Linked DNA regions of Homo sapiens. The protein of the gene in region 2 purifies or fractionates together with the protein of the main gene of each other region. This does not show direct contact. Each region holds a gene or a part of one and is shown on either strand. Other genes may lie near its edges. The genes, in order: RMND1, UXS1, XPO4 and TSKU.

Evidence for each region.
Region 1: the proteins of UXS1 (region 2) and RMND1 purify together in Homo sapiens (co-immunoprecipitation; 3 studies listed by BioGRID and IntAct, with this or other methods). This does not show direct contact.
Region 3: the proteins of UXS1 (region 2) and XPO4 purify together in Homo sapiens (co-immunoprecipitation; 3 studies listed by BioGRID and IntAct, with this or other methods). This does not show direct contact.
Region 4: the proteins of UXS1 (region 2) and TSKU purify together in Homo sapiens (co-immunoprecipitation; 3 studies listed by BioGRID and IntAct, with this or other methods). This does not show direct contact.

What each region holds. Positions count from the first base shown.
Region 1 is NC_000006.12:151,413,489-151,421,328, forward strand, and holds part of RMND1 (required for meiotic nuclear division protein 1 homolog), read right to left. Parts: intron 7,834-7,840; coding exon 7,757-7,833; intron 3,912-7,756; coding exon 3,791-3,911; intron 3,784-3,790; exon of another isoform or gene 3,593-3,783; intron 2,061-3,592; exon of another isoform or gene 1,930-2,060; intron 1-1,929. UniProt on the Homo sapiens protein: Required for mitochondrial translation, possibly by coordinating the assembly or maintenance of the mitochondrial ribosome.
Region 2 is NC_000002.12:106,120,661-106,128,500, forward strand, and holds part of UXS1 (UDP-glucuronic acid decarboxylase 1), read right to left. Parts: intron 5,020-7,840; coding exon 4,960-5,019; intron 2,432-4,959; coding exon 2,310-2,431; intron 1-2,309. UniProt on the Homo sapiens protein: Catalyzes the NAD-dependent decarboxylation of UDP-glucuronic acid to UDP-xylose. Necessary for the biosynthesis of the core tetrasaccharide in glycosaminoglycan biosynthesis.
Region 3 is NC_000013.11:20,892,548-20,900,387, forward strand, and holds part of XPO4 (exportin-4), read right to left. Parts: intron 1-7,840. UniProt on the Homo sapiens protein: Mediates the nuclear export of proteins (cargos), such as EIF5A, SMAD3 and isoform M2 of PKM (PKM2). In the nucleus binds cooperatively to its cargo and to the GTPase Ran in its active GTP-bound form.
Region 4 is NC_000011.10:76,792,750-76,798,878, forward strand, and holds the end of TSKU (tsukushi isoform b precursor), read left to right. Parts: coding exon of another isoform or gene 1-20; intron 21-2,859; coding exon of another isoform or gene 2,860-2,867; coding exon 2,868-3,929; 3' UTR 3,930-5,395; downstream 5,396-6,129. UniProt on the Homo sapiens protein: Contributes to various developmental events and other processes such as wound healing and cholesterol homeostasis through its interactions with multiple signaling pathways.

The DNA.
Region 1 (7,840 bases), on a different chromosome or scaffold from region 2:
CTTGGCCTACCAAAGTGCTGGGGTAACAGGCGTGAGCCACCGTGCCCAGCCAGTAAGTGGTGTTTCAGTCCACCAAGTTTTGGGGTAATTTGTTACACAGCAATAGCTAACACAACCACAGGAAATACCTCAACTGTATAAAGCTTTTAGTATCCCTCCCTTTCCTCCTCTGGATCTTCAGCCTGTGTGCACAGTCGACAACCAGGAAAGTCCAGTGCTTTTCATGTTTGACCAGACAGTTGGACTGTCAAATCGGTGTCTAATTACACCTCTGTTATCTAAAACTGTGTTGATGGAGTCCACTGAATTTGATTCCTAAACCATCACTAATCAATCTTTCTGTGTCAGCTAAAAGCAACATAGCTTGGTTTTCTTGCCGAGTGGTGATGATCTCTACTGTCCTGTGCTGGAAGACACCTACAGAGGAATAGGTGGTGCCAAGATCAGTGACAACTGCAGATAGCTTTGATGTGGTTTTGCAAGGGGCGGTGTCTAGCTTAGAGGAAAAAAATGTAGACACTAAAGTGGAACATAGCATTCAATAAGCCATGGTAGGTTTTTGAAATTATAAATCATGTATTTTTTATTTTTATTTTTTTGAGACAGGGTCTCACTCTGTCACCTAGACTGGGATGTAGTGGCGTGATCATGGCTCACTGCAGCCTCAAACTCCTGGGCTAAAGCAATCCTCCTGCCTCAACCTCCCAGGGTAGCTGAGACTACAGGCACATGCCATTATACCTGGCTAATTTTTTTAAAAAAAAGGTTAGTAGAAATGAGGTCTCATTGTGTTTCCCAGGCTAATCACTTATTTTTGATGTGATACAAGGTGAATGTGGGGATTGGTAGGAAATATGATTGAAAAACAGAAACAATAGGAAGGACCTTGTATATCAAGCCAGAACACTTGAGGCAATGAGGGAAACTGGAGGTATTAAAATTAGTTGGAGGGAATCAGAAAAGACAATCAGTAGACACTAATATCAAGAGGTATCTGAGGTTAGGTATTATTAGATGATGTTAGAGCAACCATCATAAAAATGATTCAACAAGCAATTCTGAACACATTTGAAACAAACGAAAAAGCAGGAAGTCTCTGCAAAGAAACAGAAGATACAAATAAAAAAACATGGAAATTTTAGAACTGAAAAATATAATAAATGAAATAAACTCAATGTTGGGCAGCAGAACGAATGTAACAGAGGAAGGAATCAATCAACTAGAAGATGAAACAAAGGACATTACCCAATCTTAACAGAGACAAAATATACTGGAAAAGAAGTGAACAGAGCCTCAAAGACCTTGTGAAATGATAATAAAAGATAAAATGTAGATGTCATAGAATTATGGCAGATTTCCGTCAGAAACCATGGAGGTCAGAAGGAAGTGGCATGGCATTTTTCAGGTGCTGAAAGAAAGAAAACTGTCTACCTAGAATCCTATTTCTAGGAAAATATCCTGCAAGAATGAAGAGAAAATTAATACACTCTCAGATGAAGACAAACTAAGAGAATTTGTCTCACTAGACTTACCTTAAAAGAATGGCTAAATAAAGTTCTTGAAAAAAAAAAACAGTAAAAGAAATCTTAGAAGATCAGAAGGAGAAAAGAACAGAAAGAATAAAAACATGGGCACATACAACAGACTTTGCTTTTCTTAGTTTTCTAAATTATGTTTGATGGTTGAAGCAAAAATTATAACATTATCTGATGAAGTTTTCTATGTCTGCAGAAGAATAGTTAAGAAAATTATAAATACGGAAGGGTAAAGGAATATAAAAGAAATAAGAATTCTTTTTTTTTTTCTGCATCCAATCATCCATTAGGGAAATAAAGATTCTATACTTCATTTAATCTGCAAGATGTTGAAATCAGTAGATTGTAATAAGTTATATACGTAAGATGTAATAACCAGAGCAACTACTAAATATCTATGCAACGAGATATATTAAAAAGTAACATCAAAATGAAATACCAAAAAATTGTTTCAGTAACCACAGGAAGACAGGAACTTTGATACAAGCAACAATTTGGATGGATCCAAGTTGAGGGCATTATGCTCTGTGAAAAAAGCCAGTTAAAAAGTCACATACAGATCGAGACCATCCTGGCTAAACACAGTGAAACCCCATCTCTACTAAAAATACAAAAAAAAATTAGCTGGGCTTGGTGGCGGGTGCCTGTAGTCCCACCTACTCAGGAGGCTGAGGCAGGAGAATGGCGTGAACCCGGGAGGCAGAGCTTGCAATGAGCCAAGATTGAGCCACTGCACTCCAGCCTGGGCAACAGAGCAAGACTCCGTCTCAAAAAAAAAAAAAAAAAAAAAGTCACATACTGTATGACTATCTATATAACATCCTCAAAATGACAAAATTATGGAGATGGAGAAGAGATTACTCACTGCCAGGGGTTAGGGACAGTCCGGGTAGGGGGAGGGCAGTGTGACTATACAGGGTAGCATGAGGAAAAGTGATAAAACAGTTTTGTGTCTTTTTGTTTTGTTTTTTTTGAGATGGAGTCTCGCTGCAACGCCCAGGCTGGAGTGCAATGGCATGACCTCAGCTCACTGCAACCTCCACTTCCTGGGTTCAAGCGATTCTGCTGCCTCAGCCTCCCGAGTAGCTGGGACTACAGGCACGCGCCACCACACCCAGCTAATTTTTGTATTTTTAGTAGAGACAGCGTTTTACCATATTGGCCAGGCAGGTCTCGAACTCTTGACCTCAAGTGATCTGCCCACCTCTAGCCTCACAAAGTGCTGGGGTTACAGGCATGAGCCACCGCACCTGGCACAGTTTTGTGTCTTGATCATGTGGTTGCATGGATCTATAGATGTGGCAAAATGTCACAGAACTATGTGCACACATTGTACTAATGTCAATTTTCTGTTTTCTATGCTCTTTCCCCATGTGGTCTACCTCCATCACTACAGCTTTTTTTTTTTTTTTTTTTTTGAGACGGAGTCTCACTCTGTCATCCAGGCTGGAGTGCACTGGCTCGACCTTGGCTCACTGCAACCTCCACCTCCTGGGTTCAAGTGATTCTCCTGCCTCAGCCTCTCGAGTAGCTCGGACTATAGGAGAATGCCACCATGCCTGGCTAATTTTTGTATTTTTAGTAGAGACAGGGTTTCGCCATGTTGGCCAGGCTGGTCTCAAACTCCCAACCTCAGGTGATCCATCCGCCTCAGCCTCCCAAAGTGCTGGGATTTCTTAATACACGTCTCTTTTCCCGACTTTGCTTCTGCCCTTCTAAATGCCTGCATGACGGAGCTAATTGGATATCTTGTTGCTACTCTAATCTCAGCATATCTTAGATTTAGTCTGTCACCTCCCCTCTCTGACCTCTCATTATTGTTTTTCCACCTTTCTACTTGTCACCTCCAGGCAAACATCAGTCATCCTTTATTCTTTCTTCTCCATGGCCTCTTATTACCCATCACTTGATTTGTCTTACATGATTCTTTCTTAAATTTATTTCTATTCTCACTGTCACCATGACAGATCAGAAGCAGTCATGAACTCTTGCTTGAAACTTGACAAGAACTTACTGATGGACCATTAGGCTTCCAAACTCTCATCTTATTCACCAACCTTATCTAGTCTGTAGAGCTAATATCAGAAGATCCTTTGACACAAAAAATTGAAGTGACTGTACAGAGGACAAGAAGGGGAAATATAAAGAGATTTGAATGGAAGTCAAACAAGATATTTCTCTGCAAGCAGTTAAACATATTCAACTTATAGGCGACAACGTGTCTTTTTCTCTCATTAGAAGTGCAAAATACGTACCTTAACTCTTCGGCCAATGCTAAGGAATTGACACGTTTTATCGTAAAGTCCTTCCAGGTTTTCTCTGTCCCAGTAGAAATCAGGAGTAATCAGGAAGTCTGAACTCAAGTTTATACGGTGCCTTTAAAAAGGAAAATTATAACTTTTTATTTATCTTGAATTAAAAATCATTGTTTCTATTGTATTTAATATTTACATAGTGCTTTATGAAAACTTTTTTTTTTTTGGTAAGAGAGAGGGTCTTGCTATGTTACCCGGGATGGAGTGCAGTGGTGTGATCACAACTCACTGCAAACTGAACTCCTGGGCTCAAGCTGTTCTCCTGCCTCAGCCTCCCATGTAGCTGGAACTACAGGCATGTGGCATTGCATGTGGCTGAAAACATTTGTTAATGCTGACCTTTGCAAAATACTGCCAACAAACATGTAAATAAAATTTACAAATGAGTTTCAAACTTCTGAACCAAATTAATTCAATCTTTAATACCAACATTATTTATGAAGTACACAGAAAAAAACTCATTTTGTTTTCAATTTTTTTTTTTTTTTTGAGACAGAGTCACTCTTGTCACCCAGGCTGGAGTACAATGGCATGATCTCAGCTCACTGCAACCTCTGCCTCCCAGATTTAAGCAATTCTCCTGCCTCAGCCTCCCAAGTAGCTGGGATTACAGGTGCCTACCATCACACCTGGCTAATTTTTTGTATTTTTAGTAAAGGGTTTTACCAAGTTGGCCAGGCTGGTCTCGAACTCCTGACCTCACGTGATCTGCCTACCTCAGCCTCCCAAAGTGCTGGGATTACAGGTGTGAGCCACCATTCCCAGCCTAAACTTTTTTTATTAAAAATTTTAGGGCCAGGCATGGTGGTTCATGCCTGTAATCCCAGCACTTTGGAAGGCCAAGGCGGGCAGATTGCTCGAGTCTGTGAGTTCAAGACCAACCTGGACAGCACAGCGAAACCCTATCTCTACAAAAAATACAAGAACTAGCCAGGTGTGGTGGTGTATGCCTGTAGTCCCAGCTACTTGGGAGGCTGAGGTGGGAGGATCATGTGAACCTCGGAGGCAGAGGCTGCAGTGAGCCAAGACTGTGACACTGTACTCCAGCCTAGGCAACATAGTGAGACCCCATCTCAAATAAAAAAAAAATTTAATATGTCCACACTTTTTTGTTTTTTATTTAAAAAATTTTTTTAGAGATAATGTCTTCATATGTCACCCAGTTTGGGGTGCAGTGACACAATCATAGCTTACCGCAGCCTCAAACTCCTGGGCTCAAGTGATCTTCCTGCCTCAGCCTCCTGAGCAGATCAAGATATAAACAGGTAAAAATTGATAAATCTTAACTCTTATTCTTATCTGTATCTTTCCCTATCAGTAATCCCTTCTAGTTTCCGCTGTATCCTTCCAGTGTTTATGCAAACACTAGACAAGCAAGCATAAACATACACACTCTCTCTCTTAATTTCTACATTTTAATATAAGAAGTCTGTGCTTACTTTTTTTTCTGAGACAGAGTTTTGTTCTTGTTGCCCAGGCTGGAGTGTATTGGCGCGATCTTGGCTCACCACAACCTCCACCTCTTGGGTTCAAGCAATTCTCCTGCCTCAGCCTCCCGAGTAGCTAGGATTACAGGCATGTGCCACCACGCCCGGCTAATTTTGTATTTTTAGTAAAGATGGGGTTTCTCCATGTTGGTCAGGCTGGTCTTGAACTCCTGACCTCAGATGATCCACTGGCCTCGGCCTCCCAAAGTGTTGGGATTACAGATGTGAGCCACCGTGCCCAGCCTTTTTCTTTTTTGAGACAGAATCTTGCTCTGTCGCCCAGGCTGGAGTGCAGTGGCATGATCCTGGCTCCACTGCAACCTTCGCCTCCTGGGTTCAACCAATTCTCATGCCTCAGCCTCCCAAGAAGCTGGGATTACAGGCGCACACCACCATTCCTGGCTAATTTTTGTATTTTTGGTAGAGATGGGGTTTCATCATGTTAGCCAGGCTGGTCTCGAGCTCCCAGCCTCAAGCAATCCACCTGTCTCAGCCTCCCAAAGTGCTGGCATTACAGGTGTGAGCCACCGTGCCTGGCCTTACACTTAGATGTTTAACTAAATAAAAATCTAAGTTATGAAAGTACACATAAACTGATGTGGTGGCTCACACCTGTAATCCCAGCACTTTGGGAGGCCTAGGGAGGAGGATTGCTTGAGCAAGGGTTTGAGACCCTGTCTCTACAAATTATTTTTAAAATTAGCTGGGTGTGGTGGAGCACTCCTGTGGTCCCAGCTACCCAGGAGGGTGAGGCAGGAGGAATCCCTGAGCCCAGGAGATCAAGGCTTTGGTGAGCTATGATCATGCCACTGCACTCTAGTCTGGGTGACAAGCAAGACCCTGTTTAAAAAAAAAAAAAAAAAAAGTAACACATACATACCTGTTCACGATTAAAAAAAAAAGGAAAATATCCTAGAGAAGGATTCAGAAAAATGGTAGGCTCTCTTATGCTACCACACTACTTAAATCCTTTATTCTCCCCAAGGACAGGCCTGTAGAGACACTTTGCTGTGTACTTCCAGATCTTTCTGTATTCATACATGCATGTGTGTGCAAGCAAACACATGTACATGTGTATGCATATAAAGATAAACATGAATATTTTTATTTGCTTACACAAATGGGATCATACCCTATATAAATTTAGATTTAGTTTTTTAATCTAATATTATCTGCCATGTTTATTTTCACAGATGTATCACATTCCTTATATTAACAAATAAGCATTTTTATTGTACAGGTAAGGAAACAGGATAGTAAAAGTAAGCCTTTATAGAAACTATTCACAAACCTACGTATATTTAGTCCTAACTATTCAGTTTGGATATTATAATTCACTACATCAATTTCTGCTTGCATGACCAAGAGAACAGGAGAGAAGAATCTCTCTACCCTACTTCTCAGAGAATTTGAGGCTTCAGATATGCTGCAGGATGCTCCTGATGGATGGGTTTTTAAGTTTTGTTGGTACCCTGAACTATAGGTCCTGAGCTATGAGAGATACACAGACAATGAAACACTGTATCACTTCTCTCCAGGCAGAGCATCTAAGGAGAATATGGAAAAACAAGTCTTAGGTGAACATTTGCAGTGAGCTCTGGTAACTCATTCCACATGCTAGAAGGGATAAACTGGACAATGCTGCCTGTGAGAAAAACACCAACATCCGGGATGTTTCATTCCGTAAATCCTGGGACAACTACAAGAATAATAAAAGCTGAAAACCTTTCCAGATACTTATTTAAAATGATTCATCAGTTTTTAGACATAGTTATTCCCATTTTAACATCTCGAGGCATCTTAAAATTAATGGTGTCTGACAGGTGGCACTTGAGACTTACTTGTCTTTGCCTTAAATAATTTATTTTCTTATGCTTTCCTTTTCATATATGCCCAAGAGGGAATGTGATATAATTTATATCCAGCTAAGATTAAAAGATATTTCAGTAAGTGTAAAATTTTAATCCTCTGATAAAAAAAGTATTGTCATAGTTTAACTGGCAGCAGTTTTTCTCTCCAGTGGCATCTTGGTGTCTCAGATTCAAAGAAACTTTTCTGTAGCAATTAAGCCTATTTAGCATTATGATGCAGTGATATATTTTTACAGAGAATTCCCATTAACCAAATTCAGGAATATGTCTTTCTACCTTCAAAGAACACCTACTGTGCTCCTTAATGTGGGTTTAATGTAGATGAATCGTGATCTCTTTTGCACATGCGTGATTTCTTTCAGTACAGTCTTAACACAGCCCAACTACTTCTAATGGGTAAGAGTTCTCCCTGCTTATAATCAATGAAATGAAAACAGCTACAGTTCCCATAAACGTGTAAATGTTTGCTCTTCACCACAGAACTATGGGAATGTTTTCTTGAGATTGTTAAATATATGAAATATTTTATTTAGAGAGAAAACTTTTACCTTAGAGCAAAGAGTTCACCGATTTTCTGCATAACTTCTTCATGAGATAGTTTCACTTTCTTCCCAGCTTTTAAAGCCTAGTTG
Region 2 (7,840 bases):
CAATTCTCAAGCCTCCCAGTGTGACGGAAAGCAGCAAGCGTGGTTCCCACATGAAGAACCCACGACACCCCTGTGTGAAGTACACTGTGAACCTGGCCACAGAAGTGACTCTTGCAGCCATTCTGCAACTGTCTGTTAGGGACTCCAGGGTGGAAGGCACATGCCTGGTGACTCCATAGAAGGCGTATCATGCCAACGGAGTGACAGGGACACCTTCCCGACAGGGTTCACGTCAGGGATGCTACCTTGAGCAGGAGGAACCAGCTGACCACACGGGGGGCTTCTAACAGGTATATTACTCACAGTTTTCAGGGCAACGCTGCCCACGCCATTAAGCTCCCGAGACCTATGTGAGCAGGAATTTAAATGCTGATGTTCCAGAGTTACTAGGTGCTACCTTCCGGAACCCCCAGGCACAGATGACACGAACGGGTCCAATGTTAGCATTTGTGTGAAATGCAGATCCTGGCTGGAGCCCAGGCCCCTAGAACAGTACCTAGCATACAGTCGGTGCTCAAGAAGTGCTGCTTCTATTATTGCCAAATACCTAGAACAGTACCTAGCATACAGTCGGTGCTCAAGAAGTGCTGCTTCTATTATTGCCAAATACCATAATTATCGCAAGCTTATACTTAAGGCAATAGGTATACCCATAAAGTTATCAACTACATTAGCCGAATAATCATTTAATGAAAACTAAAAGCTCAATCAAAATGTCCCATTTGTCCACCAGCTTTACCTATATAAAAATTCACTAGGTAAGAAATACAATCATAGGACTGAAAGCAAAAGAAAACAGTTGAGAATCATATCACTCCTGGAACACATTCTAGAATAAAATGCAATGATGTACCCCTGACACTCTAGTCAGTACTCCTAAGTACCCATGCACACAGAGTGGTCCTGTGTGTCTGGAAGATCATCTGAAACTTTTGAGTCAAGATATTCTGGGCCCCAAAATGATGAAAGTATGTTCCTACTAAAACTGATCGGCATTTCATAGAGGAAGTGGATAATGTAAGCCAACAGACTAAAGTCGCTTAGAAGGCAATTAGTTCTGCTTCTGGCCAAGAAATAAAGCAGAAAAGTTTAAATATAAACAATAGCATAAGGTTAATTTATGCATCTTTAATGCTGGCATTTCATTAAACACATGATGAGAAAGAGAGTCCTCGACATTCTCTCCTACCCCTCAGAGAGCCTACCTGGCTTTACATTGCCCTGTCCTCTGTGGTACCACGGGAAGGGAAGTCGATTAAACTCTCATCCCAAGGTCAGGAACAGGAGACCTGGCCCTTGGCACATGCTTGACTGGGGCTCTGCCGGGGCCTGAGACAGACAGTCAGGAAAACTCCTGGATGCTGGCCATGCTGATGACACTTGCCCCTCCTACAGAGCACATAGCCGACAGTTCCCCAGGCTCACCTGCAGACTGGGCCCTGGGCCTGACAGCATTGCTCCCAGAAACAGACACTGCATCTACCAACAGCCTGTCCTGGACCAACGTTCCACAGCCATGTTGATTTACCTGCATGTCCCACTATACCAGAGGGCATTTTCATGAGGATGTGAAAATTCAGACCCAAGCCCAAGGACACACTCAGTGAGAACATGAATGGGATATCCTGTGCCCAGGCCTCCACCTTCTCTGCACAGTTCATTGGCTCCTGCACCACCCTGAGATGGGCAGGGCAGGCTTCACAAACCCTGTGTCAGAGATAAGAACTGAGAGAATGACGGCTTAAATCTTGGAGTCACACAGCAGCACAGCCAGTGTGGCAACCTCGGCCTCTTGGTCTGTGAGCAATTTCTGCTATAACATGCAGGTGACCAAATCTGTCACATAAAATATCATCAGCACAACAATGACTAATGAAGAAAGCATGAAATAACAGTAAATAAATATCAATAACAATAAAGAGGTTCAAATTACAGCAATAACGCATCCATTTTTTTACTTAATTGATAGAAAAGTAAAAAAAGAAGATCCATTGATTTGGAGGCTTCAGGAAAAGAGGTACTTCTTAGCTGCTGGTGAGCAACTGGCAATGAAGAAGCATTCTGTTCATAGCCATAAAATAGTATTCCAAACCCAAGAATTGATCTCTAGGAAATCATTTTTAAAATAAGGAGATACATGGAAAAAGCTGTTGATAATACCATTAATTTATAATACTGGGAAACTGAGCTTCCCAAACACCTATCCCCAGACAAAATCAGTCATGGCATTCATTCCTTTACAACACTTTACATCTGAGGTCAGGGTGCTCAGCACGCCTAAACCGCAAGCCTAGACCCTGGTGAAATACCTGCTTCATGTAGGCATAGCACATGGTCTCTGCAACACGTTTGCCTTCATCGTAGCAGGCCCGAGGTCCTATTGGATTCACGTGGCCCCAGTAATCCTCACTTTGAGGGTGGACTTCAGGATCTACGATGGGAGAAAAGTGAGACTGTTTTCATCTTTCCTTTTTCCAGTTCATATCAATAATGCATATTTATGATGCAAAAGGGAACTTCGGAAAGACCCATTTAGAGATGGAGAGATGTATTAAAGAGGCAACCTCAGGTTTCCAGTCCATTCTCTTGAGTTCCAGTAGGATATGATATTAAGCAATGACAATATTTTACTTACAGGGGAAAAAAAAAAAGAAAAAGATCAGGTCTCCCAATTTTAAGTCTTCCCTCTCTTCCGTAAATTGTTCTTAACTTTCAGAGTGCTACACAAATTACAATTAAATAGAATCTATGTGAAGAGATATGTGGTTTTGTTTTATATTTATAAAGTTGATAACTGGAGCAAATCATGTATTTATTGAAAAAAAATGAAAAACGCAGCATCTCTGGAACATGATGACTTTGACATGTGCCATCAGCAGAACAAATCTGGGACCCGTGACAAGTCAACGTGGAGGCTCCTGTAGGGCAGGTGGAGGGACGGGGTGCCCCTGGCAAATGGGTGCCTGTTCTTCTAGCCCTCATTTTACACTCCCAATTCCTGTTTCTCTAGCGTATAAATCAATCACACTTTAAGACATACCAGGGGAAGAGACTATTGGAAGAAAACACGTAACAAATTCTTTTATTCACACAAGTATATTTCTGGAATATGAATATACACCTAATTTATTTAGTACACCAAGAATTTTATACATACTTGAGTACAACTATGATATAAAATGTATAAGTCTTTGCCACGAAATCTGGACAAAAAGATGCATTGTTATAAATTCCCATCTTGTTTATCTTACCCCTGAAGTCTGACTTGGGACTCAGTGGGCCTGAGCAGGTGCAGGGAGGTAAACAGACAGGTATCCTGCCACTTGTCTGCTCAGCCGATCCCTCTGGGTCAGCACAGCCTCCGCAGCAATGCAGAAGTGTGCTGCAAAGAAAGGTCTATGTATCTGCTGCTGTGGTTTAAAATTCCCTTTCAAAGAGCAAACTTCTCACTACTCAGTGAGAGAAAAGTTCTAAGGAAAATACTTCCTGAGAGAAAGGAACCATTGACTTAAATTCACAGAATGTACCAGATGATTGATCCCAGACCTTTTTCTGGGGATCTTTAACAAGAGCTGGGCAAGCTACCCTCCAAAAAAGATGGTCATAAATTTGACAAAGGACAAGAAAGAAAAGGCTGGGTACGCCCATCTGTCCCTGGACTGGCACCGTCTGGACTGAAATGCCCAGGATGCCAAGCTTCTAAATAAGTCCCCTCACAAAATCACCGTGGAATAAAACAGGGACAGCTTACATTGTTAATACAAAAGTAAAGACCTAGAGTCAAAAATAATTTCCAATCATCTCCCCTTTCCAGCATTCTGTGAGGCTAAGACACTAAGCAAATACTCCACAAAAGTTTACTTTGGTTATTCAAGGTCAGAGGAGAGCACCTGGTGACTTCCATAAATTACACTCTCCAATTATTTAGGAAGCCTAAGGAACACAGGCTCCTGTCAGACATGCAGATAATAAATGAGATGAGTAGGGGAAGCAGGATGGCTGTGGGAAAGATGTCACTGTTCCCCTCTGGACAGATACCATACCCCATAGGTAGGGAGGGACACACTCTGCTCTTTTATTAATAACTGCCCAGGACTTCAAAAAAGTAGACAATGAACTACCTTTTCATAGAGATTACAAAGAATATCACTGCATTTAGAAGAATTTCTCTGTTGCTATGATTTTTTTCATTTGGTTTCCTTAATTAAAAAAAAGTCTCTTCTGATTTTACCCTCTTACTTCCTTCTCTTGTCCACAATAATAATGTAAAATAGAAAAATTACATCATACTAAAACCTGGCTTCCGCTGTATCAGCTAAGCAGTTCTCCTGAACCTTGCACACCCAGCTGGTTTGGGGCTGAAGAGAAATCAACACACATTGAAAACACAGCTCCTGGTCCCCACTCCTCAACTCCTTCTCAGGCAGTGAAGGAGAGGAAGGCTGTAGCTTGGTAAAACAAGCTCGTGGGTGTTCTGACACTACCTGCTTAAGGTTCTTCCAGAACTCGTTATACAACAGGGGAGGCAGTCAGCGCATGTCTCTTCTCCCAGCAAGCTTTAAAGGCCAGCCCATGAGCTCTTGGGAGGTCAGGCATGCAGCATGCATGACTCACATAGAAGAATGACATGTGCTAGACAAACAGGTAAAAAGATAGTGTGATTTGTGGGGTGTTTTCAGAGCAGAATGGCAGAAACACTTCTGTGGAATCATAAATGGTGGGTCTTTACTGGCCAGGTGACAGGGTGCAGACCTCCAGTGATGTGTGATCAAACAAGAGAGGCTGTCCCACAAGGAAGAGGAGCTTGGCGACCCGGGAGGCCGACAGGTAGCCTCCTGTGCACAAGAGGAGCATGGGCAGGCTGGGCCTCCTCAGAAAAGAACACTGGACTCTTCTGAGACAGGATGAAAACAGTCCAAGGGCTGGAGTGAACATCTCCTGAGAGAGCCTCCTACTCACCTCCATACACCTCCGATGTGGAGGCCAGGAGCAGACGGGCACCGACTCGTTTTGCCAGCCCTACAGAAAGCAATGACATGATAAAAGAGACTGAATTTACATGTGCAGGCACATTTTTTGCTGGCCAATTTAAGCAATGTTTTAGTATTAAAGACATTTAATTATCTATCCAATTATCTACCCTTACTGCGTCTGCTTTGGCACCAAAATAAACAAAACAAATACAGTAAGAAAAACATAAATGGATTCTCAGAAGGCCAGTATTTTGTTGAATACTTGTCATAAGCAGGGCCAAACGCAGAATCTGTTAGTTTGATAAAGTGTGATTTGAGGAGTTTCGTGAAGACTCCTCTGCCCCCAAATATTACCCCATATTTTACTGGGTAACTTTCCCTTGGTTGGCAGAAGGCAAGGCCCTTTTCTCCTTAACTTCCACAATGGTCAGCTTGCCACTTCCTGAACATCTCCTGGGCTCTTCTAACTGCCCATGCCACCCTGTCTGGGTAACTCTCCACTCATTCTTCTTCCTCCTATGCGGTTCAGCTTACACAGCACCTTTTCCAAAGCAACTGTCACATTCCTCAATTCTGCTCTGAACCCCTTTCCTGGACTGACCACTCACATGTAACTGACCAGAACATCATTATCTATGGTGGTCAAGTAAGTATGGAAAGTCTTCCAAACTCATTCACAGAGTCCCAGTGTACAGTGGTTCACTACAGGATCCAAGAACCCCCCTGACCGTCACTAACCCTGTACTTAAGACAGGCGACATACCCCACCCCCAATCGCCACTACACTAGAGGGGGGCTGTGCTGGACACCCCTCAGCTCTGCCCCCCCACCAACAGCAGGGGCCAACACATGCCCACGAAGCACTGCTAGGAGGGTGAGACGAGCCAGGCACATGCAACCTATGTGCGCTTCTGGGTGAGGCTGGGTGGGGTGGTAGGATTCTAGCGTGCAGCAGCCAGGGGTATCAGTGTGTCAGACAATGTAGTAGCTTCAAAATGAAGGACTCTGAGATCTTTTTCTTCCTGATTAAATTTTTTGAGATATTTGTACATTCAAATTCAATTGTACAAAGTAGTATAGGGACCTTATGTATCTTTTACCCAGATTCCCCCAATGCTAAAATTTGCAAAACTAGATTGTGCCACAATCAGGACATTGACATTGATATGATCAGTGACTATTTCCACTGAAACGGACATTCCATTGATAAAAGTGATAGAGCATTTCCATCTCCACCAGGATCCCTCACAGGGCCCTTCTACAGCCTCTCCTCGCTCCCTCCCACCTGCTGACCCCTGGCAACCACTAACCAATTCTCCATGTCTATAATTGTGTCATTTCAAGGATGATACACAAATGGAACACGGCCTCTTAGGACTGAATTTTTTCATGGAGCATATTTCCCTCAAAATCTATCCAAGCTGCAGTGTGTATCAAAGTTCCTTCCTAATCTATTGCTGTGTAGAATTCCCGGGGATATATGTATGCACTGCCGTTAATCATTCACCTATGATAGGACATTCTGGTTGCTTCTCATTTTTGACCTCTACAAGTAAAGCTGCTATGAACATTCACACAGGTTTTCATGTGAACATAAATTTTCATTTCTCTGGGAGAAATGCCCAAGAATACAATTACTGAGTCTTACAGTAGATGCATACTTAGTTTTTTAAGAAAGCGTCAAACTGTTTTCCAGAGTAACTATACATTTTATATTCCCCCCTACCTGAGTTCTTTCTAGTTTATAGTTTTCTCTGAACTTTGGTCACAAACACACATCACAAATGCAATGTGTTATATTTCAAAAACAACTGAGTTTAAAGATTTTGAAACTAAGACTATTTCTGTAGCACTTTCATGGAATGACTCACGCAGGATCTACAGAGACAACTGTCAGGGAGTGAAGCCAAGGGAGCTATCCTGCTGCTGTAGTGTCTGGGGGTTACGAAAAACTTTCATCAGAGAAAGAACTCTAGCACAGGGTCTGGGAGGTGGGCAAGTTACATAGAGGAAAGGGCCTCACCAGGAAAAAGCCAGGCAAAGTTCATGGCATCTTGTCTCAAGTGCAAGATGGCTAATGACAGCGCCTCTCGGTTCAGAATACAAAGTCCAATTTGGGTTTCTTTCCAGCCTACCAATGGTCTCCCTTTGCCTTTTGTATCTCTCCTGGAAGACTCTTTACCATTCCTGCAAGGCCTCCACATTCAATCTCAGTCATAGCTCAAGCCCTAGCTCGAGTCATTTTTGCCTTTAACTCTAACAGCACTTTGCTGAGGCCTCTCTTTGGGAGACTTTCCTTTCCTACTAGGTATCATCGACGCTTGTGCCCGTTCAGCAGCCCCCAACCCCCATAGGGCACCAAGTGCAGAAGAGCCTGAGGGTAACCCCATCTGAATCTGCCCCAGTGACAGGACCCACGGGCACAGTGACTGCATCCCCCGAGTAGGAAGAATAAACGGAATCTCCCTAAACACCAAGTGCATGATCTTTTCCTCTATGGTCTAGTTCTGGTATGATGGAGGGGGGCGGGACAGAGAGAGTGTAGGAGGGGTAGGCGCTTGTGATGGCAAGAAGAGGGCATCACGCACACCTCTAAGCAGAAGCAGCAGCACCCTGTTCTGTCTGGTGACCAGAGCAGGAGACGGTAACAAAGAAGATAAAGCTCTTTCCAGATAGGAAGAATGAATCATCTTACTCCAAACAACCTGTCCCCTGTGATGGTTCATTTTATGTGTCAACTTAGGCCACAGGATGCCCAGGTATCTGGTTGAACATTATGTCCGGGGGTATCTGTGAAGGTGTTTCCGGAAGAGAGGATAATTTGAATGTGTAGACTGCGTAGAACACATGGCCCTCCCCAACGTGGA
Region 3 (7,840 bases), on a different chromosome or scaffold from region 2:
TGTACTAGACACACATAATCAAGGAAAAGCAAACAGGGTCCCTGAACAAATATACATTAGAGTCCAGCAAGAGAGACCAACGTTCATTAATCAATCACATAAATAAGGTGTTATAAAAGAACTACCAATAACTTGAGACCACCCTGGGCAATACAGCAAGATTTCGTCTCTACAAAAACATTGTAACATAGCCAGGTGTGGTGGCGTGCACCTGTGGTCCCACCTACTCGGGAGGCTAAAGGGGGAGGATCGCTTCAGCCCAGGAGTTTGAGGCTGCAGTGAGTCATGATCACACCACTGCATTCCAGCTGGGTTTTAGAGTAACTCCAAAAAGTAAAAAATAAAAAAAAAAAAATAAAAGAACTACACTGTTATAAAAGGACAGGTGAATCTCACCTTTCAGGCAGGCTAAGGAAGGCTTCCCTGAGAAACTGACTACTGAGAGAACTGAAGGATGAAGTGACAGGGAAGAAAAGCATTCCAGACAGAAGGACTAGTATATGAGAGGCCCTGTGACAGGACACAGGACACAAGTGGGAAGGGTTGCAAAAAAGCTAGTGTGGCTGATGAAGAGAAAAAGCGACTGGAAAAGAGTCAACAGAAGCTGGAAAGGCAGTAACTTATCCAAAGCCTCACAAGGTGCAAACATTTTTAAAGAAAAATGCTTTATATTTCACAACACTTAATGGCACTTTTCCCCTGCTTTTTGTGAACAAGAGGCCTTACATTTTCATTTTCACTGGGCCCTGCAAATTATGTAGGTAGCCCTGGCTGGACAACAAAGACAGTGGACAGAAACAGTCTTATGGCTCGGATACAAGGCAGAGGCCACCCACTCACTATACTGACCCTTCAGACCCACTAAGAAAGACAAAAAAGATGAGGATATGGAATGAAACACGGTCTCCATGGCCAAGCACGGTGGCTCATGCCTGTAATCCCAGCACTTTGGGAGGCCGAGGTGGGAGGATCACGAGGTCAGGAGTTCGAGACCAGTCTAGCCAACATGGTGAAACTCCCTCACATGGTGAAACCCCGTCTCTACTAAAAATACAAAAATTAGCCGGGCATGGTGGCACGTGCCTGTAATCCCAGGAACACAGGAGGCCAAGTCAGGAGAATTGCTTGAACCTGGGAGGCGGAGGTTGCGGAGGTTGCAATGAGCCTAAACGTGCATTGCGCCACTGCACTCCTGGCTGACAGGGTGAGACTCTGTCTCAAAAAAAAAAAAAAAGAAAGAAACATGGCCTCCTAAATTAGAACCTCCGTAGGTAAGGCAAAGGAAACTGCAGTTTTTTGTTTTGTTTTGTTTTTGAAACAGAGTTCGCTCTTGTTGCCCAGGCTGGAGTGCAATGGCATGATCTTGGCTCACTGCATTCTCCGCCTCCCGGGTTCAAGTGATTCTCCTGCCTCAGCCTCCCGAGTAGCTGGGAATACAGGCATGCGCCACCACACCAGCTAATTTTGTATTTTTAGTAGAGACAGGGTTTCTCCATGTTGGTCAGGCTGGTCTCGAACTCCCAACCTCAGGTGATCTGCCCGCCTCAGCCTCCCAAAGTGCTGGGATTACAGGTGTAAGCCACGGTGTCCAGCCAGAAATCTGCAGTTTTAATAATCACCCTAAGATTGGTTATGCATGTTCTAAACTCTGAAAAACCCTTCTCTAAAATATTGTCAAATTACAATGGACCTAATTTTTCCCATAATTACAAACAGAGAAAGAGTGAATCCCTATCTCTTTTTCAGAATAAAGTTTATTAGTTTTCTATTAGCTCTTTCTCACTCAAAAGACATTTTTCCTTTTATTTATTCACAAGGTTATATTATACTTAGCAGTGATTAAACAAATCTGTGGAAATGGAATGCCCTGCATTTGCATTTATAAGTCTATAAATGCAAAACCACAAACCTAGTCTTAGTCTGAACCATGATACAGCTTTGAACATTCTTCAACATAAAAATAATTGCAGGACATTCAAGGAAGTAGATTTTAAAAGTAGATTTTTTTTTTGGCCGGGTGTGGTGGCTCACGTCTATAATCCCAGCACTTTGGGAGGCCAAGGCAGGTGGATCACCTGAGGGTCAGGAGTTCAAGACCAGCCTGGCCAACATGGTAAAACCCCGTCTCTACTAAAAATACAAAAAATTAGCCAGGCATCATGGCAGGCACCTGTAAATCCCAGCTACTGGGGAGGCTAAGGCAGGAGAATCACTTGAACCCAGGAGGTGTAGGTTGCAGTGAGCCGAGATGGCGCCATTGCACTCCAGCCTGGGCAACAAGAGTGAAACTTCATCTCAAAGAAAAAAAAAAAAAAAGGTAGATTTTTTTAAAACACATGCAACATTCAGGCTGGGTGTGGTATCTCACGCCTGTAATCCCAGCATTCTGGAAGGCCGAGGCGAGCGGATCACCTGAGGTCAGGAGTTTGAGAACAGCCTGGTCAACATGGTAAAATACTGTCTCTACTAAAAACACCAAAATTAGCCAGGCATGGTGGCGTGCACCTGTAGTCCCAGCTACTCTAGAGGCTGAAGCAGGATAATTGCTTGAACCCGGGAGGCAGGGGTGGCAGGGAGCCGAGATTGCGCCACTGCACTCCAGCCTAGGCAACAGAGTGAGACTCCATCTCAAAGAAAAGAAAATAGAAATGCATGCAACATTCAAATTTACTAAAACGGAGTATTAATTTATGGTCTAAATTTTTATATTGTAAAAAATTCAAACTATATTAAAACTATATTAAGCACTCCTCCCATGTGCAATCTCATTCCCTATGCAGCCATTCTTAGAAGTTTAGTATAGGCCAGGCACAGTGGCTCACAGCTGTAATCCTAGCACTTTGGGAGGCTGAAGCTGGCAGATCACCTGTGATCAGAAGTTCAAAACCAGCCTGGCCAACAAGGTGAAACCCTGTCCCTACTACAAACACAAAAATTAGCTGGGTGTGGTGGTGCATGCCTGTAATCCTAGCTACTCGGGAGGCTGAGGAAGGAGAATCACTTGAACCTGAGAGGCAGAAGTTGCAGTGAGCCGAGATCGCACCATTGCACTCCAGCCTGGGTGACAGAGCAAGACTCTGTCTCAAAAAAAAAAAAAGAAGTTTAGTATAAGCCTTCCATTTCCGTTTCTATGCATATACAAATATATACAGAACTTTTTCTAGAAAACAGAAATGGGATCATATATTCTATTCTGCAATTTTTCGTCTTATTTTGAGTATCTTTCCATGTTCATTCAGATCTTCCCATTTAAAAAAAAAGCTATCACATTTTAGATATACCATATTTTTTAAGAGTTCCATAAAATTCCATTATAAAGAATACCAGTATATTAAATCAATTTGGTGTAACTGGACATTTACGTTGTTTCAATCTTCACTACAGCAAAGTACACTACAGTAAACATTCTTTGTGTATAAGCAAGTATTTCCATAAACTGAATAAATGGCCAGAAGTGAAATAGCTGGGGGTCAGCTATATATTGAAGGCTCTTGTATCGAAAACTTGTAGCATACTTCCCTATACCTTTACAATGTGAAATAACATTTTATTCTTAGTTCTGTTTCTAGACTATTCTAACTTTCTATTCTTTTCCTATGCCAATGCTATGTTTCAATTACTTTAGCTTCTGAATACATTGTAATAGTTGCTACATCAAGTCCCCAAACCCTTCACAGACTTCCAGATATATTTTCTAATCAATTAATTTTTCTCCCACCTCAGAAAAGGGTGAGGAGGAAAGAGAGATTTTGATTGACATTATATTCAATTTAGAGATGAATGAGGGAGAAATTGCCACCTTAACCGGATTGACCTTTCAGACCAAGGAGCATAGCCTTCATTTAATTCAGCTCTTTTATATTCTGCAAATAAGCTGTATCATGTTCTTCACAAAAATGGTGCATGTTTCTTATCAGTGCCCTATAATTTATTTCTACAGTTTTTCTTTCTAACAGAATGGGATCTTTTTTCCAATTTTAAGCTGATCACTGCTGATATAAAGGAAATCTTGCAACCCATTTATTTTTCTTACATCTGGTCATCTTTCCAAAGAACTAATGGTTCCAACAGTCTTAGTTATTTTGCTTAAACTTTTTTTCCGAAATGTCATATCACCTGCAAATAATCATTTTTTGGCCTTTCTTTCCAATATCTGCACTTATTCCCATTTTTTGTATTACTGTATCAGTTAGACCCTCCAGAAGGTATTAAATAACAGTTATATTAGGACTCCCGTTTTACTTCTGAGGATATCATCATTTAATACATGGTTTCAGATAACTATTTGTTATCATATTGAGAATTCCCTTCAATTCCTAGTTTATCCAATTGTTTTAATCATAAAATGCTGTTAAATTTTAACAACTGCCTTTTAGGCATCTATGGATGATTTCAAATGCCTTTTTGCATTTCTTCTCTGGATCACTGGCTATGTTCCAATTAGTGTGACACAAGTCCAACTGCAAATACACATTTAATTGAACTGAATTTGAAACATAAATTTCCTATTAATTAGCTTTTTTGAGAAAAAGAATGCTGTGCCAGTTTTCTAATATCTAGTGCCACCGCAGGTACTACAAGACAGGGCTGAAATAAACAAAAATGCATACTTACTATAATGCATCTTTCAAATAAGAAAAGTAGGTTCAATTAATTAAAATTTTCATTTTTATGACGTGTACTGTGGTTACAAAAAAATAAAGGCAGTGTACCTTACACATTGAAGGTCTCAGGAAATATCTACTACATAAATGCTCAAATATTCCTCAAACTCACTGTATTTCCCCAAACTATATTCTCTCAGACTATATTCCCCAAAATATATATCTCCACCTGGGATATTGCTTATCAAACTAGAAAACTCTAATCTATTTTTCATGATTCAGCTTAAGGGTTACCTATTCCAAGAAGCCCTTTCTCAGTCCCTATCTCAGCCTGAGATAGATGTTTGTACCTACTTCTATTATAACTTTACCAACCAACATTTGCTAATATTTTTGCCTTTCTCCACTCCTTGAAAAGAAGGTGCTTCTTCTGTCTCCTCAGCATACACAGCATAGTGTCTAACATGCTGTGTTTCTATATACTGAAGAAATGTTCTAAAACAAATCAATGGCCAGAAATTGGATTCCAGATCCAAACTAGCTACATGACAACAGGCAAATCATTTGCCATCTCTGAATATCAGGTTTTCATATTTATTTATTTATTTATTCTATTTTTTTGAGACAGAGTCCCGCTCTACAGCCCAGGCTGGAGTGCAATGGCACAATCTCTGCAACCTCTGCCTCCTGGGGTCAAGTGATTCTCCTGCCTCAGCCTCCCAAGTAGCTGGGATTACGTTATAGGTATGCACCACCTCGCCCAGATAATTTTTGTATTTTTAGTAGAGTCATGGTTTCGCCATGTTGGCCAGGCTGGTCTCGAACTCCTGACCTCAGGTGATCCACCTACTTTGGCCTCCCAAAGTGCTAGGATTACAGGTGTGAGCCACCATGCCTGGCCAGGTTTTCTCATTTATAAGGTTTAGGAATATCTCATCCTATTTACTTCACAGGACTGATATGAGAATGAAGACAAAAATTTTTCTATAGGACTACAGATGTGCAAGTATTTTAGAAGATATTAACCAGATTCCACTATAATAAAATCTATGAAAACCAGTCATGAATCTCGTTTATTAAAGTTGGATTTACACTCACTAAATCCATCCTGGTTTAAAAACAAATGTATGGGCCGGGTGCGGTGGCTCACGCCTGTTAATCCCAGCACTTTGGGAGACCAAGGTGGGAGGATAACCTGAGGTCAGGAGTTCAAGACTAGCCTGGCCAACGTGTTGAAACCTCATCTCTACTAAAAATACAAAAATTACCCAGGCGTGGTGCCAGGTACCTGCAGTCTCAACTACTTGGGAGGCTGAGGCAGGACAATCACTTGAACCTGGGAGGCAGAGGTTACAGTGAGCTGAGATTGTGCCATTGCACTCCAGCCTGGGCAAGAGTAAGACTGTCTCAAAAGAAAAAGGAAAAAAAAAACCTATGAAAATTACTTTTCTATAATGTATCAGTTAATATGTGTGCTCTGCACTATCTTATATTATTGCTACACACAATCACTAAGGACAATCCAAAACAACCTAATGAAGACAGGGCAACAAAACCAAGCAAATTCAAGACAATAAATAAAGCGCTCTTTGGACTGCAAATGAATGTGGCATCAATACTATAAGAACACTAAACTTTTCAATAATGTTGTCTCTAAAATCAAAACACCTCCTACATTTTAGTATACAAGAGGATGTGCATAGGTCATACACAATTACCATACCATATCATGTAAGAAACTCACCTGGGCACAGTAGCTTACGCCTATAATTCCAGCACTTTAGGAGGCCAAGGCAAGAGTATCACTTGAGCTCAAGACCAGCCTGGGCAACACAGTGAGATCCTCTCTACAAAAAAATATTTTTAAAAAATTACCCATTCAAGGCTGCAGTGAGCCATGATCATGCCACTACACTCCAGCTGGGACAACAGAGACCCTGTCTCAAAAGAAAGGGAGGGGATCGGGGGGACTTAAGTATCAATGCACGGTTGATGTCCATGGGTGGAGGCGGTTCCTGGAACTAACCTCTCATGGACACCGAGGGACAACTGTACTACTTTATCTGGCAGCTTATCCAATAATCTAAATTGATTGAATATAGATGTACCATATTTAGACATTTTCCATCAAGTAATAAAATGTAACATTTATAGTATATGTTGACTAAGAACCAACATGGTTGAGTAAAAAAAGTAAAAAAAAAAAAAAAAGAGTAAAGGTTTTGAAAGGGGAGTCTGGTGATCTCAGCCTGGATCAGTTATATCATGAATTTGCTCTGTGACCTACCTTGGGCAAGTCACTTCTACCTCTTTGAACCTCAGTTTCCCCATCTGTAGCATAGAAGGGAGAATGCTTAGACTTGATTCTTATTTTTCAGTTTCTAGTCTCTCAGAGACGGTGATAAAAGCTCTAGACCCTATTACTAAAAATGTACATTTACACCAAAAAATTTGTTACAATTTCCTTTTGATATTCATCCTAGACTCCCTAAGACTTCTGTACCAAAAGATCTAAGATTCTTCTATGTTCTAAAATTCTATGCTGATTTCCATAAAACAACTATATGAGTTACCTAATGAAAAATTAAGCAAAAATAATTATGAAATACATCACTATTTGCATTTTGAATCTCAAAGCATATTAACAGTTAAAATACAGCAATTTTCCATAAGATATATTCAGACCCACAGATGGATAAATGCTAAGATCACTCTGTTTAAAATATGTAGCTTAATGCTTAATAATTGACGGAGCATTAACAACCTTAATTAGCCAAAGATGAATTAATTTACCTCCTTTCTGGTCCCAGTATCCTACAGCTTAAGAACCACAGACTGGTAACAGACAAACCAGAGTTTGAGTCTCTACCCCTTGCTATGTAAATTTGTGTAGATTACTTAGCATCTACATGTTGGAGTTTCCTTAGCCTGTAAAATGAAAACGAAAGTAACACGCCAGGTGCAGTGGCTCACGCCTGTAATCCAAGCACTTTGGGAGGCCGAGGCAGGTGGATCACGAGGTCAGGAGTTCGAGACCAGCCTGGCCAACATGGTGAAACCCTGTCTCTATTAAAAATACAAAATTAGCTGGGTGTGGTGGTACATACCTGTAGTCCCAGCTACTCGGGAGGCTGAGGCAGGAGAATCGCTTGAACCCGGGAGGCGGAGGTGGCAGTGAGCCAAGATCGTGCCACTGCACTCCAGCCTGGGCAACAGAGTGAGACTTGGTCAAAAAA
Region 4 (6,129 bases), on a different chromosome or scaffold from region 2:
TTCCACAGCCACGTGGAATTGTAAGTCCAATTAAACCTCTTTCTTTTGTAAATTGCCCAGTCTTAGGTATGTCTTTATCAGCAGCATGAAAACAGACTAATACAACTTCCCAGAGTTGCACAGTGTAGCAAGTCACTCCTGCTAAAGATGGTCAGCCACCTTCCTTTTCCGATCCTCAGTTTCTCTGCTCTAAAATGGGGATGAGACTGCTGGCTCACAGAGTGACTGTGCGGACTAAATGAAAGCATGTGTGTCCAGCACTAGCAGAGAGTGAGGACTGGCCCTGACTGTCACTGTCGTCACTTCCCACTGCAAATGCCCAGCCCCGGGCATAGGCCCGGCACAGAGCAGGAACCCCGGGAGAGGTGTCTACTGTGCAGGGCTGAGCAAGGAACCTAGTTCAGTGCCCTGGGAGCATCTGCAGACAGTTACCTAGGTAACTCCTGCCCCTTTACATCAGATGCCTCTTTACATCGGCTGTTACTACCATTGCCTCAGTTCTGTATCTTCTGGCTGCTGGGTGATGACTGCCCTGTGCCTGTGCACAGCCCTTCACAGTTGGCAGTAAGGGTTAATCAACTTAGGTGAAGAGGGCAGGGCAGAAATTGCCACCCTGTAGTGCAGAGGACAAGGCTGAGGCTTAAAGAGGGGCAGCGAGAGGTCCCCTCTGGCGGGATAGCATTTGGGTCGTATTTTGAGCTGCTGGTTACATAAGTGGGAGCTCATATGAGGCCATTTGGCATTTCACGGACCCCTTGTATAATCACCTCTGGGAATCAAAGGGTAATCTCAGGGCCTTTGTGCTGTTTGTTTAAACCCCAGGAAGGGTGGGTATGAATGAGCAGATCAGCTTAGCAGGGGAGGTGGGGCCTTTGGTGGTAATGAGCCCTGCGGTGAGGAGCTCGCCCAGGGGAACAAAAGGGGCCTGAAGCAACTTAATATTTTCCTTTTGGTTCCAGACATTGGAACACTCTGTCCTGCCTCAGCTGGGACCATGCCCAGGATGCACCTGGGCTGGATTTAATCCTGAAATTGGCCTCTACAAAAGAAAGGGGTGGGAGAGGAGGGTCCCACATGGGGAGGGGGGCAGGGGAGAAGAGTCCCACTTTTCCCTGCCCCTGGGCAAAGCCAGAGTGCAGATCAAGTGGCTAGCCCTTTAAAGTTTCATGCAGGGCTGGTAATGCAATCCTGCTGCTCCCTCCCACCCACCTTCCAGTCTGGAAGGTGGGCAGGTCCCTGGCCCATCTCCTCCCCCTCTCTCACCTCCTTCCTGAAGTCCAGAGGGAGGGATGGGCAGGAGGGCAGGGGCCCAGAGCAGGGCCACCCAGATGAAGAGCCTGGCTAGAAGGAAGCTTAGTGCCTTCTGTCTCCCAGGCTGCTGAGGGGCCACTGTGCAGGGCCGGGGTGACGACAGACTATCCAATTGGTCTAGTTAGAAGCTCCCACTGCCCAACCCTCTCCTTCTCATGCTGGCACCACTGAGCACCACCATCCCAGGAGCTACAGTGGACGTGAACACAGGCTTTGAATCCAACAGCAGTGGGTGGTGTGACCATTAGATGTGACAACACGTATGTAGCACCTGGCATCTGTAGCAGCCACCACTGTAATTGTACAGAGGGAACTGAGATCTGAGGAGGGACACTGGCTCATGCCACAGCATGTGTCAGTGGGAAAAGCCCCTCCTGCACCCTGCCTCTCCACCAGCTACTCTGCCAGTCCTGCTGGAGGCAACGCATATGAATATAGTAATTGGAGTACACCAGGCCTGGGTCCCATTCCTGCCCTGCATTTTACTAGTTTGGGGTAAGGCCCTATTCCTCTCTGAGCCTCTGTTTCTTCATCTGTATAATGGGGGAAGCAGCCTAACTGCCTGCCCGAGGTTAAAGGAAGAACCAAAGAGGTGTAGTAGCTTAATCTGCTGGTGGCAAGGGACAGAGTAAGGGGGAAAGAGGCTTGGGACAGGTGTCCCCAAAACCCATCTGGGAATCTGGACACCCACGTTGGACACCAGGATGCCCAATGAGAAGGGAAGTTCCTGCCCCTGGATGACAGGCTAGGGGGACAGGGCAGGTGGAGTATGGGTGCGGTGGGGCAGTCACTGCAGGCCCCATTGCAGGGAGGGAGTCCTGGTCTTGAAGGCCAGCCCCGGCCAGACCACAGGTGCTTTCTCTGTCAGTGTCCCCTCTAGTGCCACTCCACTCTGCTGTGTGGCTGTCCAAAAGCGTCTTAACCTAAGGCCCAGTTCCCTTTTGGTAAAACAGAGAATTTTCTGCCTTGGAAGGTGGTTGTGAGGGTCAGATGCGACCATGCTGTGGGGCAGCCAGAACAGTGCCTGACGTGTAACACTTGCTCAGCAGAGAGTGGGGCACCCTGGGCACACCCTACCCTCAGCCCTGTGGATGAGCCCCTCACCCGGGGCCCGAGGTCTAGACCAAACCAGGGACTCTGGACCATCAGAGCTGGAGAGGCCAGCCCGAGAAACCGTCTAGTCTGGTGGGTTTCAAACTGGGTTTCCTAACACCCTAGGCAGGGATGGTGGGCAGAAGTCGAGGGCTTCAGGTCCCCCTCACTTCAGCCAGACCAGGCCCGCCTTCATCTGCTGCTCTTGTTTAAGAAAGGGATCTGCTGCTTCTAGTTGAAAATTCACCACCTGGCCTCACGCCCCTTACCATACAAATGGAGAGGCAGAGGCCAGAGAAGAACTGGGACTAGGAACTCTGGGGAGTGTTCCAGGAAGCATTCCAGGAGGTCGGGGTCTGTGACACCTTCCAACAGTGTCTAGACTGGGCTCATGTCCTGTGTGGTGGCTTTAGACCATCTGGTGCATTCATTCCTCACCTGTGGCTCTCTTTCTAGCCCCCACCATGCCGTGGCCCCTGCTGCTGCTGCTGGCCGTGAGTGGGGCCCAGACAACCCGGCCATGCTTCCCCGGGTGCCAATGCGAGGTGGAGACCTTCGGCCTTTTCGACAGCTTCAGCCTGACTCGGGTGGATTGTAGCGGCCTGGGCCCCCACATCATGCCGGTGCCCATCCCTCTGGACACAGCCCACTTGGACCTGTCCTCCAACCGGCTGGAGATGGTGAATGAGTCGGTGTTGGCGGGGCCGGGCTACACGACGTTGGCTGGCCTGGATCTCAGCCACAACCTGCTCACCAGCATCTCACCCACTGCCTTCTCCCGCCTTCGCTACCTGGAGTCGCTTGACCTCAGCCACAATGGCCTGACAGCCCTGCCAGCCGAGAGCTTCACCAGCTCACCCCTGAGCGACGTGAACCTTAGCCACAACCAGCTCCGGGAGGTCTCAGTGTCTGCCTTCACGACGCACAGTCAGGGCCGGGCACTACACGTGGACCTCTCCCACAACCTCATTCACCGCCTCGTGCCCCACCCCACGAGGGCCGGCCTGCCTGCGCCCACCATTCAGAGCCTGAACCTGGCCTGGAACCGGCTCCATGCCGTGCCCAACCTCCGAGACTTGCCCCTGCGCTACCTGAGCCTGGATGGGAACCCTCTAGCTGTCATTGGTCCGGGTGCCTTCGCGGGGCTGGGAGGCCTTACACACCTGTCTCTGGCCAGCCTGCAGAGGCTCCCTGAGCTGGCGCCCAGTGGCTTCCGTGAGCTACCGGGCCTGCAGGTCCTGGACCTGTCGGGCAACCCCAAGCTTAACTGGGCAGGAGCTGAGGTGTTTTCAGGCCTGAGCTCCCTGCAGGAGCTGGACCTTTCGGGCACCAACCTGGTGCCCCTGCCTGAGGCGCTGCTCCTCCACCTCCCGGCACTGCAGAGCGTCAGCGTGGGCCAGGATGTGCGGTGCCGGCGCCTGGTGCGGGAGGGCACCTACCCCCGGAGGCCTGGCTCCAGCCCCAAGGTGGCCCTGCACTGCGTAGACACCCGGGATTCTGCTGCCAGGGGCCCCACCATCTTGTGACAAATGGTGTGGCCCAGGGCCACATAACAGACTGCTGTCCTGGGCTGCCTCAGGTCCCGAGTAACTTATGTTCAATGTGCCAACACCAGTGGGGAGCCCGCAGGCCTATGTGGCAGCGTCACCACAGGAGTTGTGGGCCTAGGAGAGGCTTTGGACCTGGGAGCCACACCTAGGAGCAAAGTCTCACCCCTTTGTCTACGTTGCTTCCCCAAACCATGAGCAGAGGGACTTCGATGCCAAACCAGACTCGGGTCCCCTCCTGCTTCCCTTCCCCACTTATCCCCCAAGTGCCTTCCCTCATGCCTGGGCCGGCCTGACCCGCAATGGGCAGAGGGTGGGTGGGACCCCCTGCTGCAGGGCAGAGTTCAGGTCCACTGGGCTGAGTGTCCCCTTGGGCCCATGGCCCAGTCACTCAGGGGCGAGTTTCTTTTCTAACATAGCCCTTTCTTTGCCATGAGGCCATGAGGCCCGCTTCATCCTTTTCTATTTCCCTAGAACCTTAATGGTAGAAGGAATTGCAAAGAATCAAGTCCACCCTTCTCATGTGACAGATGGGGAAACTGAGGCCTTGAGAAGGAAAAAGGCTAATCTAAGTTCCTGCGGGCAGTGGCATGACTGGAGCACAGCCTCCTGCCTCCCAGCCCGGACCCAATGCACTTTCTTGTCTCCTCTAATAAGCCCCACCCTCCCCGCCTGGGCTCCCCTTGCTGCCCTTGCCTGTTCCCCATTAGCACAGGAGTAGCAGCAGCAGGACAGGCAAGAGCCTCACAAGTGGGACTCTGGGCCTCTGACCAGCTGTGCGGCATGGGCTAAGTCACTCTGCCCTTCGGAGCCTCTGGAAGCTTAGGGCACATTGGTTCCAGCCTAGCCAGTTTCTCACCCTGGGTTGGGGTCCCCCAGCATCCAGACTGGAAACCTACCCATTTTCCCCTGAGCATCCTCTAGATGCTGCCCCAAGGAGTTGCTGCAGTTCTGGAGCCTCATCTGGCTGGGATCTCCAAGGGGCCTCCTGGATTCAGTCCCCACTGGCCCTGAGCACGACAGCCCTTCTTACCCTCCCAGGAATGCCGTGAAAGGAGACAAGGTCTGCCCGACCCATGTCTATGCTCTACCCCCAGGGTAGCATCTCAGCTTCCGAACCCTGGGCTGTTTCCTTAGTCTTCATTTTATAAAAGTTGTTGCCTTTTTAACGGAGTGTCACTTTCAACCGGCCTCCCCTACCCCTGCTGGCCGGGGATGGAGACATGTCATTTGTAAAAGCAGAAAAAGGTTGCATTTGTTCACTTTTGTAATATTGTCCTGGGCCTGTGTTGGGGTGTTGGGGGAAGCTGGGCATCAGTGGCCACATGGGCATCAGGGGCTGGCCCCACAGAGACCCCACAGGGCAGTGAGCTCTGTCTTCCCCCACCTGCCTAGCCCATCATCTATCTAACCGGTCCTTGATTTAATAAACACTATAAAAAGTTCTTTGCTTTACTCAGCCAGTGTCCACTGGCAATCCCTGGGCTGGGCTCTGGGGCCACAAAGATGAATCAGGTTAGGCCCTGCCCTGGGCAGCTTGTTCTCCCTGAAAAGCCTGATAATCTCAGGATTTGGGGAGTAAGGTGACGTGAAGGAGGGAGTTCCTGCACCCTGTTCACCTCTCATCTCCCGTGGCCCTACCCCACTGTTCCTGCCACCCCAGCTCCAGCCATAGCCATGAGCATGCAGGCCCTTGCACACCTGTTCTCTTGCTCAGGCGTTACTGTGGGACCTTGCCCTTGCCCTCACCCCTGTCTCTCAACCTCCTTCCTATCCAGTAGACCTAGTTCTTGCCCGCCCGCAGAAGCTTCCTTGGCCCCTTCCACCTCCCTCCTCTGAACTGCAACAGTATTTTGTTCTTCCTTGGTGCTTCAGCTGCTATGGTACCCCAGCTCCTGTTTGCACACTTCCACTGACAGAGATCACACTTGGAGCTCATCTGGGTGGCTCTGCTGTCACCAAGTTCTTCCTTCTAACTGGCCAGTCTACAGGGAATGTCTACCATCATCACCAATGACAGGTTTTTCCTGATCCCTACTCTGTGCCCAGAACATTCAGGCCATATGCACTGGTGGGAGCTTGCCCATCTTGTAATCAGGCCTCCCCAGGGAGAAGTATCAGCTTGAGGCCCTGGGTCCGAGGCTGGCACCCAGCGGTCAAGGTAGGAAAGAGCTGAGGC